Linked DNA regions of Homo sapiens. The protein of the gene in region 4 purifies or fractionates together with the protein of the main gene of each other region. This does not show direct contact. Each region holds a gene or a part of one and is shown on either strand. Other genes may lie near its edges.

The links. The genes of interacting proteins can lie anywhere in the genome.
Region 1: the proteins of SATB2 (region 4) and GRHL1 purify together in Homo sapiens (co-immunoprecipitation; one large-scale study listed by IntAct). This does not show direct contact.
Region 2: the proteins of SATB2 (region 4) and CRYBB1 purify together in Homo sapiens (co-immunoprecipitation; one large-scale study listed by IntAct). This does not show direct contact.
Region 3: the proteins of SATB2 (region 4) and CCDC80 purify together in Homo sapiens (co-immunoprecipitation; one large-scale study listed by IntAct). This does not show direct contact.

What each region holds. Positions count from the first base shown.
Region 1 is NC_000002.12:9,998,665-10,003,499, reverse strand, and holds the end of GRHL1 (grainyhead-like protein 1 homolog), read right to left. Parts: intron 4,536-4,835; coding exon 4,471-4,535; intron 2,908-4,470; coding exon 2,793-2,907; 3' UTR 1,223-2,792; downstream 1-1,222. UniProt on the Homo sapiens protein: Transcription factor involved in epithelial development. Binds directly to the consensus DNA sequence 5'-AACCGGTT-3'.
Region 2 is NC_000022.11:26,603,806-26,609,097, forward strand, and holds part of CRYBB1 (beta-crystallin B1), read right to left. Parts: intron 4,258-5,292; coding exon of another isoform or gene 4,255-4,257; exon of another isoform or gene 4,217-4,254; coding exon 4,084-4,216; exon of another isoform or gene 4,017-4,083; intron 1-4,016. Other genes in the region: CRYBA4 (beta-crystallin A4), read left to right, coding at 4,255-4,257. UniProt on the Homo sapiens protein: Crystallins are the dominant structural components of the vertebrate eye lens.
Region 3 is NC_000003.12:112,626,922-112,632,213, reverse strand, and holds part of CCDC80 (coiled-coil domain-containing protein 80 precursor), read left to right. Parts: intron 1-1,944; coding exon 1,945-2,101; intron 2,102-5,292. UniProt on the Homo sapiens protein: Promotes cell adhesion and matrix assembly.
Region 4 is NC_000002.12:199,345,247-199,350,538, reverse strand, and holds part of SATB2 (DNA-binding protein SATB2), read left to right. Parts: intron 1-1,365; coding exon 1,366-1,838; intron 1,839-5,292. UniProt on the Homo sapiens protein: Binds to DNA, at nuclear matrix- or scaffold-associated regions. Thought to recognize the sugar-phosphate structure of double-stranded DNA.

The DNA of each region.
Region 1 (4,835 bases), about 190 Mb from region 4:
AGTGAAGCGGAGAGCTACTGCAGGGTTCTGAGCAGAGTCCTAATTTATATTTTAGAAGAATCATCATGGCTCCTAGATTAGGAATAAAACGAAGGGGCCCAGGGATGGAAACGATGAGTCCAGTTGGGTTACTGCAAAGATCCAGGCCAGAAATCCAGGCACAGTGGCACACACCTGAGTCCCAGATAATTCCACCTACTGGTCCTGCTCTGTGGCCTACTGGTCCGAGTCCAGCCCCGACTGATTTCTGGGCCTGTAATGTCTAAAAACGCTCCCTGCTGATGTTTTGCAAGTGACTGTGTTACTTGAAGGCAGTTCCTAGGATAAACTAGTCGCTTTATCATTACAGAATCATTCACTGAGCATCAACTATGTAACCAGCATTGGGTTGGGTGCCAGAGATCCAAAGCTAAGACACCAAAACCTGCTCTCCAGGAAACGAGAGGCTGAGAAGAGGGCCAGCAGGTGTCTGTCAGTACTTGGAGCCGTGAGAGCAGGGAGTGGGTGCTGGGCTGAGGAACCAGAGGTAATGGCCCTGGGGACGCCCGGGAAGAGATGAGTTTTGAGGCAAAGGTAAGTCCCGGGAAGCCAGGGGGTGAAGGAGACCCATGGTGTGAGGAAGGGCTCCCATAGAAAGGATGCGCTGGCAGGGTCCCCAGGCTTCCTGTGTGGAGCTGGACTCTGGAAGCACTGAGTGAACGGGAACCCAGGCTGCAGGAGAGTCTCCACTTTGGCCCGAGGGTTACTGTGAAAAGTGCAGATGTCCCAGGAGCCCTATCAGGGAGTTTACGTCATTAATCTGATCTTGTATCCATTAAAAATATATCCTAGTGTCTATCATATTTAGGCCCTGGATTACCCTGGAATATGTTCAGGACGCCTGTTTTAGAGATTCTAATGATTTAAATATTGGTAAATTTTTAAACTAAGTATTTTCTGTTAGGCTTTTAAACACTAAGAATACTAAGATTTTAGGTATGAAAGCATTTACCTTCAGCTTTAGTGGTTAAATTTTGGTAAGAATTGGAAAATCATTCAGGGATCCCTGACTTAACAATTACGTGGATCATTTCAGGCATCAGTAAGGAAAAGTTAACATGAAGAAAACAACCTAAGCGCACACATTAAGAAATAAGCAGAAAGTGCTAGCAATGAGATGCTTTTCAGCTCTCACGTTTTACTGAGCAGTGCAAAGTCAAATTGAAAAACAGGAAATGACATATTACGAAATAGACATATAAAATTTAATTCCTTTGGTTTAAAATACATCTTCAATGATACAATTAAAAATAACACGCAAGACAAAATCAACTTCATAAAAAATACAAAAGTTATATGACCCATATCCCATATCTTATCTTAGAAAACCAGCAATTTAGTTCCCATACTTCATTAGAATACTTTAACCTAAGACTGTAACTACCAGTCCATTTACACGAATGACCTAGTCTAGTTCCCTGAACCTAAAGATACCCGTGACTTTGTTATAAAATTACATATTTTAGTATTTTTATATACTTAAATGTGTACAAAATGTTCCCCTGCCATAGTAACATATTTTTGTGAATTCATGAATGTTTTCTAGAATTGTTAACATACAAGATAATCAAAGCACGAAGGCTCTGATGCGTGATAAAATAATCATTTCTCAAAACAGGAAGATGAGAACTGCATTTCGAGTTGTATCACTTGGTACGCAATACTTGCAATCTGTGTGCTGTAATTACAGTGTTTCTTCACTCTAAGTGCATCTGACTGATACTAGCATAACAAAAGACGTGATTGCAGTAGTGTTTTTCTTTTACTTCATTTGTTAAACAGTGCAGAAATCCAAATAACAACATTCTCAACAGCAAACAGAATCTCTGTCATTTGAGAAGGTTTTGCTATGCTACAGAATGCCTGTGTTTGGAAAAACAGAGAAAAAGGTTTTTAGCGGGTTCCACTAAGCACAGTATTCTATCTGCTTGGTATACACGATCAAAAAATAACTTAACCTTTGTCTAGGGAAAGTCTTTAAGGTAGCTCTTACTGCATATCTTCACTATATGTACACAGACACCATATTTATATATTATATATTTATATAAGACATGTATGTACACATTTACAGACCTTCAAAAATATATTGCACTTATATACAATGCAGCTTTATCTTAACTGATTTCATACTGTAACCCATTAAAATTCTTCATGAGAAAGGCAGTTGATATGTCCGAGAAAGTCGCAAAGGAAGATTTCAGTAACATGCCCTGTTTAGTAAACATCTGGTGGAGAGTGAGAGGGTAAGGGAGAGAGGGCTCCCCCCGTACTCTTCAGGTGCGCTCCCGCTAACGTGAGGCAGTGGAGTTGTACTGAATTCAGGCAAGGGCACGAAATCCTTAAAGCCAAGCCTATCGCCTTTTCTGACTTCTGCTAGCGAGCAGGCCCACGACACTGTAGGCACAAGGCAGAGATCCCAATATTTTGATAAATAACGTAGCAGATGTCCTAAAGCTTCCCAGAGACTCTGTTAACTCTTGGAATAAAGTTTTCACTTTAAATCCTGTATATATCAGGAAATTCAAACATAATGGTATATGGATTTCTCTTTCATCTGAAAAACACCAATGCAATAGATTAAATGCTACCACCAAGCCAGATGCAGCCCCGCCTCCAACCTGCAAGGAACCCATTCCCTCGACATAGACCTGTGCTGGCGACATGGCTGACTGGGGTTACCTGCAGTTGCCAAACCGTAAGATCTAGAAACACCTGCACTGAACTCCTGGGGAGCTGTGGCCCGCAGGCCTTTAGATCTCCGTCAGGGTGAGCTTGTAAGACCCCCCGGCTTCTTCAATCTGCAGCTGGAAGGTGTCCTCATTGGAGTAATGCTTCACAATGTTGTCGTCCATGTTCACCAGGATCCTGGATGGGGGGGGACAAGACCAACCAACTTCACTGCCACTTGGTCCTGGAGTCAGACCTAGATTGACCTGTTAGCTCTCCCACTTACTAGTTGCAGCATGTGAGGCAAATTATTTAAATCTCCTTAAGCCTCAACTTCCTCATCTATAAAATGGGGATAATAATAGTACCCATCTTATAGGATTGCTGAGAGAATTGAGTTAGGAGGAAATCAGGTGATATATTTATATCATAGCATTTGGAAAATGAAATATACTGGCTTATTTATGATTATTATTTCCAGCATGTATTTCATAGTTGTCACTTGGTAAATGGTACTTGGCTCATACCTGTGATGCCAGCACTTTGGGACGCTGAGGCAGGAGAATCACTTGAGCCCAAGAGTTTGAGACCAGCCTGGATAACATAGCAAGATCCCATTTCTACAGAAAAATTTTAAAAACTAGCTGGACATGGTGGTACATGCCTGTAGTCCCTGCTACTTGGGAAGCTGAGGTGAAAGGATGGCCTGAGCCCAGGAGTTCAAGGCTACAGTGAGCTCTGATTGCACCACTGTACTCCAGCCTGGGCGATAGAGTGAAACCATCTCTAAATGAATAAAGCAAAAGCACATCAATAACACTAACTTACATGATGTGAAGTCACAGCCCCCTGACAAATTACACACTCCAGCAAGTGAGCCTCAAAGTTTAAATGAACTACTATTATCAAACAAAAAATAAAGAATACAAAAACAAGAAAATAAACAAAAATAAATTAACTACTATTAAGTCCAACTCTTTCCACTAGAACCATCTAGAAATTTCCCATTAGAATTTGTTTTAAAACTAAGCCAAAAAATTCTTATGCTAGCCACTGCTTATCCATGCCAAACATCATAGACAGACAAAAAAGAACTAAAAATACTAATTTCTAGACAAAGCAGCAACGTGACATAACTTGGAAATAGGATCCTGAGCAGGAGGGTAGAGCAGGGCATGGGCTGCAGAGGCAGGGAATACCAACCATGGCCCCGAAAAGCCTCTTGAACTCTGAGCCTCAGCCGCCTGTCTATAAATATAAACAAGCCCTGAGACCAGCTCAGAAAGAAGACGTGAAGACCAAGCGCAGCACCGTGGGACGTGCCCAACCCAGTGCCCGGCTCCAACGGGCTCGACACACGGAGGTGCTGCCCTGGCCATCCTCAGTGGCGCTGGCCACACACCCTGGAGTGTGGAGCCATGGCACTGCTGCCAGGCATGTGGAGGGCAAAGAAGGTGACTTGGAGAAACAATACACAAAGATCTCCTCAAGGCAGATCAATTTTATCTAAGTAATTTCGTATATAATTTAGAAAAGCCACATTCCAGCACCCAGGTTTCTTTGGCTGCTTCTGGACTGGGCACGATGCACACGTGTCACACTGGCACAGGGTGTGTGTCACTGGCACAGGAGGGTGTCACTAGCATGCACGGTGTGTTACATGGTGCTGGGGGGTGTCAACAGCACTGGGGGGTGCGTCACACTAGCACTGCGGGGGGCATCAGCACTTTCCGAGGTACACAGGACGCAGTGGCTGCTTACCCCTTTTTACACTTCTTGAATATTTTCCCAATCTTGTCATGGGGAACATCGTATTTGTCTGAGATCTAAAAGAGGAAAGAAAAATAATTACAAAACCCTGTATCAAGGCTTTAGAAACCAAACAACAAATATATATATATGTATATATATGTGTACATATATATACGTATATATATGTGTACATATATATACGTATATATATATGTGTACATATATATACGTATATATATGTGTGTACATATATATACGTATATATGTGTGTACATATATATACGTATATATGTGTGTACATATATACGTATATATGTGTGTACATATATATGTATATATATGTGTGTACATATATATGTATATATATGTGTACA
Region 2 (5,292 bases), on a different chromosome or scaffold from region 4:
CCCAGCTACTCAGGAGGCTGAGGCAGGAGAATCACTTGAACCTGGGAGGCAGAGGTTGCAGTGAGCCAAGATTGTGTCACTGCACTCCAGCCTGGGTGACAGAGCAAGACTCTGTCTCAAAAAACAAACAAACAAACAACCAGGCCCACCCTTGAATGTGGGCACATGATTCAGTTCTGGCTTGCACTTATTTTTAATGCTTTCATGACCCTGTATCTTGTTTTTAAAGTTCGTCTGTTATTTCTGAGGGCAGGGATCATCCATCTTTTCAAAAGTCATCATGCACTGTTTTAGGCCCAAGGGTTTGAAGAGCCAAAGAGATGAACAGGAAATAGCAGAGTGATGCCGGACCTCAGTGTCTAGGTTCAAACCCACAGACCTTGGTTCAAATCCCAGCCCCAGCAACTCCCAGCTGTGTGGCCTTAGGCCAGTCATTTTCTACTTCTGAGTCTCAGTTTCCTTGCTTTTAAAATGCATGTTATCATAGCCTGTAGCATAGGACAGTTGTAGGGATTATGTAAAAGGCAGGTAATATACCCAGTACGTAGTTGGTGCTTAAAAATGGATGCTGTGATTATCTACTGTTATTATCTACTGTTATTCACCACCACTAGGAGGAAGAGGAGCCCAGAACGTAAGTGCATCCTTCTGTGAAAGACTCCAGTAGGAGATTATAGATGAAGAAAGAACTGGTTAATTCTTCCAGAGAAAAGCAGAGCAGATCAGGGAAGGCTTCATGGAAGAAGTGACACTAGAGAGGGACCTTGGAGGTTAAGGAGGAGTGCACAAAGCTGAGAAGGGAAGGAGGGTTGAGGGAAGGCACTGAGGCAGAGAAGGCATAGGCAAAAGCTGGGAGGTGGGAATGTGCAAGACAATATCTGTGTGGCCAGGGTGCAGGAAGGCAAGTGCAAGGTGCCAGGCAGGGATGTAAGCACAGGGGACCCTTTGGGGCATGGCAAGACAAATGCCCTTAGTGCAATTACCAGCCAGTGGTAAAAGTACAACAATGATTACTTATTACTGTTACGGTCTTGAGGGCCTTGGGAAGGTTGTTAGTCAATGGCTCCCCACTGCTAGAGGGGTCAAGACTGAACTTGCCACCACCTATGAGACCCTACAAGACCCTGGTCTCCACCACCACCTCCCCTCCCATCTTGCCTCCCTCTTTCCTCCACTCCCTCTGCTGCAGCTTTGTTGGCCACCTTTAATTTTCTTGGTCCCACCAGTCCATCGTTGCTCTAGGAGTTTTGCACACACTGTTCCCTGGAAGGCTTTACCATCTGCTCTTCACGTGGCTGAGTTGGTTTCCAAACTTTGGGAGCTGGCTTCCCTGATGACCCCCTGACCACTCCCACCTCTAACAATATCTGAGCCCCCAGTTCCTGCTTCTGCTTTCCTAGTTAGATTGCATGGCCTTTGTGTAACACCTACCACAGTTTGCAATTGTAGATGGATTTTTATGATTAGCTTTTTGATAGCTGCCTCCCTGGGTAGCTTAAGTCCCATGAAGACAGGGACCTAGTCTGTTTGATGCACAGTTTTGCACTCAGAGCCTAGAACCAGAGCCTGGCAGAAACAGGCCAACTGGTTGGGCGCACTGGCTCATGCCTGTAATCCCAGCACTTTGGGAGGCCCAGGCGGGTAGATCACTTGAGATCAGGAGTTTGAGACCATCCTGGCCAACATGATGAAACCCTGTCTCTATAAAAAATACAAAAATTATCTGGGCGTGGCGGTGCACACCTATAATCCCAGCTACTTGGGAGGCTGAGGCAGGAGAATTGCTTGCCCCAGGGAGGTGAAGGTTGCAGTGAGCCAGAACGTGCCACTACACTCCAGCCTGGGCAACAGAGTTAGATGTGTCTCAAAAAAAAAAAAAAAAAAAAAGGAAAATAGAAACAGGCCAACCAAAATGTCTGGGTTCAAGTAGAAGATGGTCAGGTTTATTTTTTTTTTTTATTTTGAAAAGATCCCTCTAACTTCCCACGACAGGGGGCTGGAAAGGAGTCAGGGAACCCAGCAGGGAGAGAGCTGAAGATGACCAGGTCAGAGATGATGGTGGCCTGGACCAGGACTGTGGCAGGGCAGAGAGAGGAAGGGTTAGACCAAGCTTATTTAACCTGCGGCCTGCAGGCCACATGTGGCTCAGGATGGCTTTGAATGTGGCCCAACACAAATTTGTGAACTTTCTTAAAACATTATGAGATTTTTTTTGCAATTGTTTTAAAGCTCATCCGCTATCGTTAGTGATAGTGTATTTTATGTGTAGCCCAAGACAATTCTTCCAGCGTGGGCCAGGGAAGCCAAAATATTGGGCACCCCTGAATTAGATGGTTGGATCTCAGCCCTGGCTGCACAGACGGACTACTTAGAGGGCATAGAAAAGATAGCAGTGCCGGAGTTCCAGCCCTAGAGATTCAGAATTAATTGGTCTGGGGTGGGGTCTAGGCTTTGAGATTTCTAAACATTTCTAATAACATATTTTATTTAAACAAATATACCTAAAATATTATAATTTCAATATGTAACCAATATAATGATATCAATGCATTGTTGACATTCTTTAAAATTTTTTTTACTATGTATTCAAAACCTAATATGTATTTTACACTTATGACACATCTCCATTTAGCCAAAATTCAAGTGTCCAATGGCCACATATGGCTACTGCCTATTATGTTGAATAGCAAGCTTCTAGAAGCTACTGGAAATGCCCTGGTTGATCACTCTTCCAAACAAACCCCTTAACATAGGTTGGCATATAAGAACCATTCAATGATTGAGAGAGACATCTGTGAATTCTTACAGAGAGTGCATCATGAAGGCAAATAATTCAGTCTTACATTCTGCGAAAAGTGTTGGGAATGATCTGTTTGAATAATCCATTAAGATAAATTTGGTGATGTCAAAACAGCTGGTGGTTGGCACTTGATAGCCTCAAATGCACATTCATGAAAATTCTTATAAATGTTCCCATCATGGAAGACAAAAGTCGGTTACCATCAGCAACTAACATTGGTGAGTAAGATGTAGCTGGTTCATGACTCATCATCAACTTAATTCTGGAAAAAACTGTGAATCACTTGGAGATATCGCCACCATTTTGACCTTGAATCTTCTGGAAGTTGACTTAGTTAAATATTATAAGAAACTAATTCAGTATATTGTCTTATTATTAAGAGGTTCAAGCTGCGTTTCTACAGTATCCCTCTCCTTTTTTTTTTTTTTTTTTTTTGAGATGGAGTCTGGCACCGTCACCCCGGCTGGAGTGCAATGGCATGATCTCGGCTCACTGCAACCTCTGGCTCCCGGGTTCAAGTAATTCTCCTGCCTCAGCCTTGCTAGTAGCTGGGATTACAGGCATGCGCCACCACGCCCGGCTAATTTTTGTATTTTTAGTAAAGACGGGGTTTCGTCATGTTGATCAGGCTGGTCTTGAACTCCTGACCTTGGGTAACCACCCACCTCAGCCTCCCAAAGTGCTGGGATTACAGGCATGGGCCACCATGCCCGGCTACAATATCCCTCTTCTTAGCCATTGCATGATCTGCAACCAGCATGTTTGGTGTTTCGAATGGGCACTGAAATTTGAAAAGTTTTCCCAGGCCTGGCATGGTGGCTCACGGCTGTAATCCTAGCACTTTAGGAGGCCCAGGCGGGAGGATCACTTGAGGCCAGGAGTTCAAGGCTGCAGTGAGCTATGATCACACTACTGTACACCAGGCTGGGGGACACAGCAAAACCCCATCTTTGGGAAAAAAAAAAAAAAAAAAAGCTCCCAGTAAGGTCTAAATGTGCAGCCAGGGATATCAAGAGAATCAAGGAAGATGCTGAAGTTTTTAGCTCTAACTTGGAAGCTTTTGTGCTTATCATTTGCCCAGGGTTCCTAGCTGGGTATGTAGTGAGTGTGTTAAGGACACTGATGAATTGATGAGCTCAAGAATCCACGGTCCTTTGACAACTCGGAGGCTGCCACGCCTCCCTACCCACCATCATCTCCTTCTTGCCCTTGTCAGATCTCAGACTTACACCTGCCCTGCCCCGCCTGGCTGATTCTCCAGCCCCAGCCGGAGAGCCACTCACCATTTTGATGGGCCGGAAGGACATGAGCCGATCACTGCGGTAGCTGCTCGACCATGTGTTCCAGCGAGGGTACTCGCCCTTCTCCAGGATGAACATCTCCCCGCGGAAGTTGGACTGCTCAAAGGCGACCCAGCTGGATACAAGAAGGACCATGAGGCAGACAGGAGACATATGGTTAGTAGAAGCCCCCACTCCCTACTTGCCTTTCTCTCTCCCCTGGCAAGGCAGCCCTGAGGACAGTAGGAAAGTCCAAAGGGGGCTGAACATGTCTGGGTTTGATTTTAGGCTCTGACACTTACAGGCTGTGTGACTATGGGCAAGTGACTTTACCTCTCTGAGCCTTTGTTTCTCATCTACACTCATATGCCTGTTTCCTTGGAGTTGGTGAAGGATTAAGTGAGATAAATGTGTGTGATTATCTGAGCACACTGTTTCTCTAGATGTAAGGTTCATACATGCTTCAAGTACTATCAGGACTTGGAGCCAAGGAACACATAGACATTTGAAACTTGACGCCAGCTAGGAGAAAGGCTCGTTTGATGTTAATGTGCCTTTAACACTTACTAATCTCTCCTTTTTTTCTTTTGTAACAAAGAGAGAAAAGACCACTAGCCCAGAACCTCCAGCAGACAATGGTGTAATAGCAACATAATAATACCACTTTTGTGTTTATTGTTAATTTTGTATGGATACCTTTTACTTATAGGAAATAATACTAGCCTTCCATTTGTAAAAAGTGGTGTCAGGGTTCTTTTAAAATGTGTTTATTTGTGGTTAGCAGGATCATTTTAAATGAAATATATTAAATGAACGACAGTCTCGGAGGTACAGGGGTAAGGGAAAAATTGATACAGGTGTTTGCATCCTTGCTGGGTAAATACTGGCCTGGTATTCGGGAGATACTCAGTAACTAGTATGAGGCAATGGGAAGGGAATGATGGTAATATCTACCCTCAGATACCTATGGTAATATAATGTGATAGCGCTTATGAAGATGCTAGGTTCCTTACATGGACTAATTAGAAGTTTGAAATTAGATGGAAGATTTTCCTGGCTTTCCCAGTGAAGATTGATTAAGGACAAGAAGTGAGCTTGTGTTACAGGGACCAGGGATTGTGGCAGTGCAGGTGGGGTAGATAAGACAATCCCCATTCCGTAGATGAGAAAGCTGAGACTAAGGAACTCCTTGACCTTTGCTCCCCGTGTGTT
Region 3 (5,292 bases), on a different chromosome or scaffold from region 4:
CCAACTTAAAATAAAACTTTGGTATCTGCGCTCCCATCAAGATCTGAAGAAATATTTTCAGATGCCATAAAGCTAATTAAAAACAAACCAAGCAACTAAAAATACCATCACCACATCTTTTTATAGCTGCCTTTAATCTTGTTTTAAGGCTAATGTGAATCAATGAATAAATTTGGAGAAATTTTGTTTTTCCCCTTAAAAAATTATGTTCCTAAAACAAGCATTTCCTACCCAGAATGTCCGTATGAGCAGGCATAGAAACACATGAAAAATAAACTAAAGCATGTCTATTTAAAATTAATTATGATCTGAAAAACAAAACAAAACAAAACAAAAACTTCATCCCAGAAAACCTTTGTTAACGTTCCATTCAAAGGCTATTGAACACGTTTAATTTCCTTGAGGGAGAGTATTTTGTCATGCGGGGAGAATTCTTAGAAGGGAAAGCCTGCAGGTAGCAATACAGACATCTCTGACAGAGAAAAATAAACAGCAGGATCAAGCTGAGACCAGATTTATTAACCATTTTTGATAAAATATTTGGAAGAGGTACACAGCCTGGTGATTTGCCCTCTGAAAAATGCCAAGGTAATAGTCATAAATATCGGAAATAGTTTATAAGTTTAGGCGGATAAATAGAAAGTTGGTTGATACATTTGAATGTAGTCAAATGCAAGAAAATTGGCTGATAAATTTGTATTTAGTCAAATGCAAAAAGTTGTTTACAGAAAAATGATTTATAGAGGTTTGCTTCTGAGCTTAGTGATGATGCAACAAAGGGCAAATAGACAGCGTTCATTGCAGACATCAGCCTGGTGATCTATTTGGGATCAAGGATCTCAACAAAGACCTGGTCATCATCACAATAAAATTTCACATCCTCCCACCTCCAAGGTAAGCAGCATTATGCCCACTAGCTTGTGGGATGTGGAACAGAGTTCTAGCTTCAGCTCAAGGATTGAGTAAAATTGGTAAAATTGGAGAAGGCTCAGGGAAGGGCAGCTAAATTAATCAAGAGAGTAGAGAAGCTTTTGTATTAGGTTAGATAAAAATAGTGAGACGTTCTCAGAGAAAAGATTCAAGAGGACCTCTTAAAAGTAGGGTTATCCTTACTGTATCCAAAATAAATTACATTTTCTCAGATTTCTGGTGACTAAAGTATTTCTTTTGATTGCTTTGTCTTTCCTCTTTTTTTTTTCCCCCAGAAGACAGGGGTCATAGGATGAGGATGAAAGACAGAGGGCTAGGTGAAAAATACCAGGTCTGAACCAAAGAGAGGGCTAAACTTAGAGTAAAAAACATCCTGTTGGAAAACTGCAATATCAAAAGACAAACACCACCAACTCTGTGCAGGCTGAATGTGACAGTGAATATATTCTATGTGACAAAACGTAGGCCTAAAAGTCATCATAAAACCTTTCTGCAAGGTTTTCTAATAAGAGTTCTAAATCACAGAATGTTTCGTAGTGCCCAGGGCCTGGCTATGAAACTCTCTTAACCCTGTGAAATGTGAATAATAGTAGTAACCACTGTATTAACCAATATCTAATCAGCCAGTGAGAATAATGAAGATCAAAATTAGGGAAGGAAAATAACATTTATTGAACAATTATTGCATGCCAAGTATTCATGTAATGTTCACAGCAGCCTTGCAAAATAAATATTCCTTTGCAGAGTTCACAAATAAGAAAAGTGAGACATGTGGAGGCTAGTAATGGAGGTAAATAATGGAAGTGAGTAGAAAACTCCAAGCTGTCTTGGAGACAAAAAGAGGCCTTTTCAAATGGCCCTTTTTGGTCCTAATTATGCTAACTGTTCAGCAGAACATTTGTAGCTTAGATGCAGTCACTACCAGCCCTCTCTTCCAAATCATCTCTTTGGGTTTTGCTTCAGTGTGAAACTATCACTATAAATGAGTATTTGTTTGTCTTCACCCACCTCCAGCTGATCACTGCTCCCAAGGCTGAGAACAATATGTATGTGCAACAACGTGATGAATATCTGGAAAGTTTCTGCAAGATGGCTACCAGGAAAATCTCTGTGATCACCATCTTCGGCCCTGTCAACAACAGCACCATGAAAATCGACCACTTTCAGCTAGGTTCTCTTAAACATTTTAATTATATTATTGTTTTTCTCATATCTAAGGTGGGACAAACTTTATGGTAGAGGTACATGGGGGATCCAAAAGAAAATGAAGATGTTCAGAGGGCTCTTTGGTTGTGATAACACAGGTCAGTTTGCCTGCTTATTTAAATAGCCATTCCAGGATGGTTCTCGTTTAAGTTTTAAGCACTGTAAAAAAGAAAAATACGCAAACACTCTATTGTCTGAAAGTCAGTAAGGTGGAAGAAAATGGGAAAAGTAACACAGTGTGGGAGAGAATCAGAGAGGCATTCAGACACTTTTTCTGGGTACTGAGTCTTCTCGCCTGTGAGCAGCCCCGTCTGATCTTCCTGCAGACTCTCCGCTGCAGGTGACTCATCACAGATGGGACTTGCCAGACTCTCGGAAGTACTTGACTCTGGCAAGCCTGAGGAAGGAATTAACCAGAACTGAGAGAAGCTGTTAAGATAAATGAAAAGTCACTGAAAATATGGACTGAACTGCACCCAAGTCCTTTTGGAGAGTAGAAGAATTTGGCTGAATTTAGAGTTTTCGCAATTTTACATATGAATGGTGCATGTGAGACTCATGAGGCGTACAGCCCAGTGTTGGACAGCTGAGATCTAACTCATTGCAGTTCTCCTGGGAACGTTGCAAGATTTACTGTGATTAGTTAAGCCTCATAGTCAGAAGCCCAAAATATGACCCACCCAGTTTATTTCATAATTATTGCATCTCTAGGGCTTTATTTTTTAAAAAGCTTTTTTTCTTATATGCACTTTCTACTGTTTTGTTGTTGTTCATGGTTTAACTACAAAAAAAAAAAACCTTAGAGTAATCCTTTATATTCCATCGTTTGCATATTCTGCATAGTTTCCGTAAAATATATTTCATCTAAAAGCACTTGAAAGAATATAAAATATATTTAGTAATATATAACTAATTATTTGTTAGTCAACATTTAACTTCAATACACATAACATTATCACACAGATTTTTCTGACATACGATCTTGGTGTAATTGAAGACATACTAGTTATATTATGTCACGATAATGTCAACTTGATTTGAATATGGTCTAGCCTTCTAAATCATATTTTTTTTATTGTGGTAAGTACACTTAACGTGAAATCTTCCCTCTTAATACATTTTTAAGTGCACAATACAGTATTGATAACTATAGGTACAATATTGTACGGCAGATCTCTAGAGCTGATTCAGGGTAAAGTATCAGTTATGCATTCTCTACTTTAAATAGCCCACCTTCCTCTGAGGTGGCTACAAAAGAAAAATAAATAGCATCTTTTCCAATGTCCCATCATAAATTATTGTGGATTGATGATTTATTTTTAGACATTTATCCTGCACTGTGTGTATAATTTAGGGGGAGAACAAGCAAAAAAGGAATTTTCTTAACCAAAACAACAATAATGATCATACAAACAAAAGACACAAAATGAATTCTGGAGACAGACAGATTTAAATCCAGGGTCACAATTTACTTGTTGTGTGACCTTGGGCAAGCTACTCCTAAGTCTTAGTTTAGAAGATAATCATATCTATTTCACAGGATTAAATAAGATAGTATACAGAAATGCCAGTCAGGTAATAGGCACTATTATGTGGTCATCCTCTGCATCACCATTTGATCTGGTAGTCATCTGGAAATCAATGAGCTGTCACACTTGTCACTAGAGCACCTATAATGGCAAAATACTTGTTATTGCTTTGTGCTGATTACAGAATGTTGACACAAGAACCCTCACAACAGCTCATCCAGATCAGGCTGCATTATTATTCTTGGTGATAAAACTGAAGCCCAAGAGACTAATACTACAAAGCCACGTATTTATTGGCTAACTAGGATTCAACCATTTGTTTCCTGGATTTTTCAAATAATAGCATGAGGGCAGTGAGCTTAATTACACTCCAGATGTCCAGAAAGGAAGTAAGTATTCAATCCAGCACAAAGACTGGTGCTGGCTAGTGATGAAAGCCCTCACAAACCAGGTGTTCCCAGTGTCAAATGTGTTACCTACCAACACTTTCACAAAGTGTTCTCATTCCTTATTTCAGAGAAGCTTGGAAAAATCATTACATCTTCCACCTCAACTTCTATATGGTCCCATTATAAGCATCTGGTACTGCCTTGGCAAATTTTTAGCATAATCCTACTGTTTTCTAGACATCTGGATTGAATATGAACTGTAGAGGGGCTGTGGGTCTTTTTTTTTTTTTTTTCTGCCTTATTGGAAATCAGGTATTATGATTTGGGCATTTTCCTCACTGAATGGTAGCCGGGACCTGATTTTGGGGTGGGAGATCTTTTATTTTGTTTCTCATCTAATTCCTGGAAGGCCTCTCTTTCCTTGTGTCATGTCCCAGTTTACCCTTATGGGAAAGGCTGTAGCACTGTGAGCCAAGACTGGGAGTCGGCCATGGGATAAAAAGAATTGGCATGAGCCATGGGCTCAGTGAACCAAAAAACTCCAGCCTTGACTGACTTTCAGCTGGAAATCTATCAGATGGCCTTACTTTTCCTTAAAAATAAATCAAGCTCTGCCTACTATTCCAGACTTTTACTGGGCCTTGAAAGCAGGGGCACACATCCAACTACAGTGTGGGCCGTACTCACCAGCTGGTCCATCTTGCTAAAAGTATTTGGACATCACTGATGAACCTACAAACGCCAAGAAACTTACCTTAAGATTTTAGGCTTTCATGTAAATAAAGTTATTTATGCTTGAGCAAATTCCAATGCCTATCTGGTTTTGTCAGCACAGAGTATATTGCATGTGGGGTTTAAAATGGCCTAACACATAAAGGCATTCTTTCTTGTTAGTGATATCTAAAATGTCAGTCTAGGATAGGAATGTTGGGTGTGTATGTTTAGTGAATGGATTACAGACAAATTTTGTCAGATAGGAAAAAGTTGCTGGCTAAAGGCACTTCATTGCAGAATGAAAAAAGAAGTGGGGGGAAATGCACAGCAAGCATGTTTCTTTCTTAGCAATATTTAGAGATGAAAAATATTTTAACATTGGCATTTTATCACCAAATTTTAAGAGCTAGAATACACAGGACATTTAATAGGGCAAGGGAAGTTTTTTGATAACTTCTTTCAAAGAAAGGAGAGTTTGAGGGTAATCAAGAGAGGTAGCAAAGTTCATGGAGGTGGAATATGGC
Region 4 (5,292 bases):
TACATGAAGTATTAATTTAGAAATACTACTTTTTTCCACCCATACAGTTCATTGACTTTATTCAGTGCTTCACATGTGATTTGGCATCAGTGTCTGTCATCACCAACTCCCCTGTTTTCAGTCATCTCACCCAGTTGTCCAGCACACATCATTTCTGCCTAAATTTTTTGAGACTCAGTATTTTTTTTTTTTTTATAAAACCATGATTCTGTCACGGTTAACTATATGGCAAACCACACATTCCATTTGTATAATAGGGAGACAGTTACTTTTTATATGTGTTCTATAGGTGAATATGTTTGATCTCTAGCTTCTTAAAGTTATCTTTAATGGACTTTTGCATAGTCATATCCAGCATTTGCAATTATAAGAAATAATTTCTAAATTTGTATGGATTTTTTGCTTTGAAAAAGAGATCTTGTTAGATTATATTACACCTATAAGCATTTAAAACTAATAATGTTGGGATTGCTTCAGCCCCATTTCTTTTCTCCAAACCAAACTTTGTTTTTCATGATAGAGTAATACAGAGACTTGGATAAGGATTTGGCTATGAGGTGACTGTCTTTCCTAAGACATTATTTTAGGGAAAGAAAAATACTTGCCTTATGCTTGTATATATATGATACTTACTTTTCCCTTTCAAAGTTATTCTTTTAATCTTTATTAAAGCACAATATAATGTAATAAAGCAGATAACCTGAGGAGAACTTCATTTAATGGCAAGTTGAGGTGATGTTATTAATTTTGTGATTTTTTTTCTTATCTGAGTGCATAGCACAATGTTTAAAATATCAATTTCTTAAAGAAACATTTCTATAAAAAAGATAGCAAGTGAGTCAATAAATGGATATACTATGTGGCAGACATTTTTAAATGAACATTTCCATAGCTGTATAATAATATTTATGTGAGCTTTTTACTAGAAGGTAGCACTTAATTTGGCAGGAGATGTTATCCTTGTCATTTCCTGATAACCATTAACTACATACTACAGAAGATAGGAACAGCTGGTGCTTTTATAACAAAGGTTGATTGGGGAGATGATAGAGCTTGGGGGATCTAAGAGGATTTAGAATGGTCAGTGGTTTCTGTCTTGGCTATTTAAAGAAATGCTTACTTTTAAGAATTTTAACTAATTGAAGTGGCAAATAATTTTACTTTCTTTCATATGTTCCATGAAAAAAATCTATTGTAACATTTAGCAGAAAAGAATATCACTTTTATGCTGGAGCTTCCATCGTTGTATGAAAAAATGTTTATATTATTAACATGCCAAAAGTATGATAATTCAGTTCTACATATATTAGCAATAAATTGTACCAATGAAAATAATGATTAATTATCACTTTTATCTCTTAACAGTGGAAAGAGTGGAACGAGAAAACCTTTCAGACTATTGTGTTCTGGGCCAGCGTCCAATGCATTTACCAAATATGAACCAGCTGGCATCCCTGGGGAAAACCAACGAACAGTCTCCTCACAGCCAAATTCACCACAGTACTCCAATCCGAAACCAAGTGCCCGCATTACAGCCCATCATGAGCCCTGGTCTTCTTTCTCCCCAGCTTAGTCCACAACTTGTAAGGCAACAAATAGCCATGGCCCATCTGATAAACCAACAGATTGCCGTTAGCCGGCTCCTGGCTCACCAGCATCCTCAAGCCATCAACCAGCAGTTCCTGAACCATCCACCCATCCCCAGAGCAGTTAAGCCAGAGCCAACCAACTCTTCCGTGGAAGTCTCTCCAGATATCTACCAGCAAGTCAGAGATGAGCTGAAGAGGGCCAGTGTGTCCCAAGCTGTCTTTGCAAGAGTGGCATTCAACCGCACACAGGTACAATTAGCATTAAACACTGTAATTAACAGTAATACTGGGGACAGAATTGAGATAGGTTATAATTATTTTTATCTCTTTAAAAAGCTTTATGGATCTCAGGACATAGAATTAGATTAATTAATAATCCTTAGTTAATGAAACGCTATTACCATTGATCCATGCATGACCATGATTAATTAACTAATTGATTAATTTTGATGAGGTAATGGACATCTTTGAACCCAACATGCAACTCAGGACCCCAAATGTTACTAATGACTTGGGTATGTACTCTCTCATCCTCTCCATTTACTGTTTGCAGATGTAACCCTGATCTTGAATTTTGTGATTATCAGTCTCTTGCCATTTTTTAAAACAAATTATAAAACTATGCATGCCCAGACAATCTATTTTTTTCCCTTGGTTTTGAACGTTATAAAAGAAATAAAATTATGTTTTATAATTTTATAAGTAAAGTTTTATTTAAAAATTTATAAAAATCCTTCAAAACATAAAAGTTAGATTTAAGATATTGATAAAATGATAATGGATAGTTTACTTTTATTTTTAATGTTTGAGAGAATTATATGCCAATTATAACACTAAATGTTGAAAATGTAAACAGTTAATTCACACGTCTTATTTTTATTGAGGGTGCTTATATGTAAGACATTCTTTTCTGCTAGTAGTTCTTAAACTGGAGTGTGCATCAGAATCACCTGGAGGGCTGTGAAACACAGACTGCTGGGCCTCATCCCATAGTTTCTGATTGAGTAAGTCTGAGGTTGGACTCAGAAATGGACATTTCTAACAAGATCCCAGGTGATTATGATGGTACTGATCCGGGGCCGCATGTTGAGAAAAACTTACCTAGCCCTTATATGAGTAAGAACAAAGCAGATGTGCATAATCTCGGGGAGCTAACGATCTAGTGGTGAAAACCAGGTAACCAGATAATTAGAGTAAAATGTGAAGTGTTATGAGTAATGTTGGAGAGTGTAAGCAATAGTTGTGGTGGAGGTTCATGGTGAGCTGGAGGTGAGGAATACTTCCAGGAGAATGAATATGGTAAGCCTTCAAGAAAACAGTAGATTAAAATTTCAGCACCCTCGTAAATGCAAGGCAGGAAGCTAAGCTCTATGTGGGTGCAAAGAGGAAAAAGATAATGGGCAAGCACATATGTAAACAACACTCTAGAGTATTAGGTTGTCAATGGGTTAGACCTTGAAGGATTAATAAAGTACAGCAGGCAAAGATGATGAAGAAGAAGATTATTATTTTAAGGTAAAGACATTCATAGGAAAGATGTTGAGTTAAAAAATGCAGGAATAATTTGAAGACATAAAACAACTGATTTCTGAGAAAAACCCTGTGAACGTACAGAATGTAGGAATGCTTTCATTTATCTGATACCTGTTCAGAGACACATGATAACACACGCTGTAGATGGACCTTACAAATGAAAGAAAGCATGCTGGATTGAAACCTCAATAATTTGGAAAATACAGGAATGTTTCCAAATTTAATGATTACTTCAGAAGTTAAGGGGCTGGGCACAGTGGCTCATGTCTGTAGTCCTAGCACTTTGGGAGGCCAAGGTGGGCGGATCACTTGAGGTCAGGAGTTCAAGACCAGCCTGGGCAAGATGGTAAAACACCATCTCTACTAAAACAGAACAAAACAAAAAAATTAGCTGGGCGTGGTGATGCGTGCCTGTAGTCTCAGCTACTCAGGAGGCTGAGGCAGAAGAATCCCTTGAACCCAGGAGGCGGAGGCTGCAGTGAGCCGAGATCATGCCACTGCACTCCAGCCTGAGTGAGAGTGAAACTCCATCTCAAAAAAAAAAAAAAAAAAAAAAAAGTTAAGTGAAAACTCTCACTGGGGAGAAATCTGATAAATGTTGGTAAATTGGATTGCCTGATGCAAGTTAACACTCAAAAAATGCACCTAAGTGAAATGTTATACCAGTTATAAATATTTTATGTTTATCAGTGGTTCATTGTTAAAGAGGGTCTGTTTACTTTTGGTTTCCACGTCTCTTGCAAGAAAACATTGAGGTAAGAATTTTGTAGATACTCTTTAAGCAATACTGCGTGAGTTAAATAAATAGCGTTTTTGTTAAGTCAGTTAATACATTTTTTCTCTCTTTATTCGAAAGTGTGTTGGATCTCTGGTTGAATTGAAATGTATTTCTATTATGTAGGCGATTTAAATTTTTATTAGTTTTGAAATTGTCGTATGATTAATGAGTCATTGAAAAATGAGTTTTTGTGCTGGGTGCGGTGGCTCACGCCTATAATCCCTGCACTTTGGGAGGCTGAGGGTGGCAGATCACGAGGTCAAGAGATCGAGACCATCCTGGCCAACATGGTGAAACCTCGTCTCCACTAAAAATACAAAAATTAGCTGGGCGTGGTGGCGTGTGCCTGTAATCCCAGCTACTTGGGAGGCTGAGGTAGGAGAATCACTTGAACCCAGGAGGTGGAGGGTGCAGTGAGCCGAGATTGCGCCACTGCACTCCAGCCTGGCAACAGAGCGAGACTCTGTCTCAAAAAAAAAAAAGAAAAAGAAAAAAAGAAAAATAAGTTTTTGTTAATGGTTGGGATTTTCTTACTGGCCTCGTGGCAAGTTTTGTTATCTCTTATTATATATATTCTACCTTTTTATGGGAAAAACTACTCTTTTTGGTGTAAAGATATTTTTTATATTTTCTTTGCTTGTAAAGAGTTATTATCAATTTGTAAGTATAAAAACTGCAAGTATAGTTGGTAGTTGATAAGAAAGGTAGATAATAAAACTTAAAAGGGATGGACACAGATTGAAAAAGGCCTTGAGTGCCAAGACAAGAGCTCTGAACTTTAACAGGCACTGGAAACCGTCATAGGTCTTAGGTAGGAATATGCTGTGCTCCCACCATCTTAATTAGGTCTTATGGAGGTTTGATAGCAAGAGGGTAGGAATATCATTTAGCAGGCTACTGCAAGTATCCAGGTGAAATGTACAGAGGTTTTGAACTAGGCTGCTGGGGAGGGTGCAGAGAAGAAATATTTTGGAAATAAAATGGACAGAAAGTGTATAAATGGATAAAGAGAGGAATAGAACTGACACCAGGCTTCAAGCCTGATGCCTGAGAATAAAGGTGTAATTATGAAGGGAATCCAGGAAGACATGGAAAGAGTGGTTGGAGTAAGGTTAAAGTGATAGTTTTAGATTGGGTTATTTTGACGTTGAAGTGTTGACCAACTTCTTAAGTGAAAATGTGCAACAGTCATTGAAAATATGAGTTTGTGGGGGGAGGGGGGAGGGATAGCATTAGGAGATATACCTAATGTAAATGACGAGCTAATGAGTGCAGCACACCAACATGGCACATGTATACATATGTAACAAACCTGCACGTTGTGCACATGTACCCTAGAATAATAAAAAAAAAGAAAAGAAAAAGAAAATATGAGTTTGGCGCTAGGAAGAA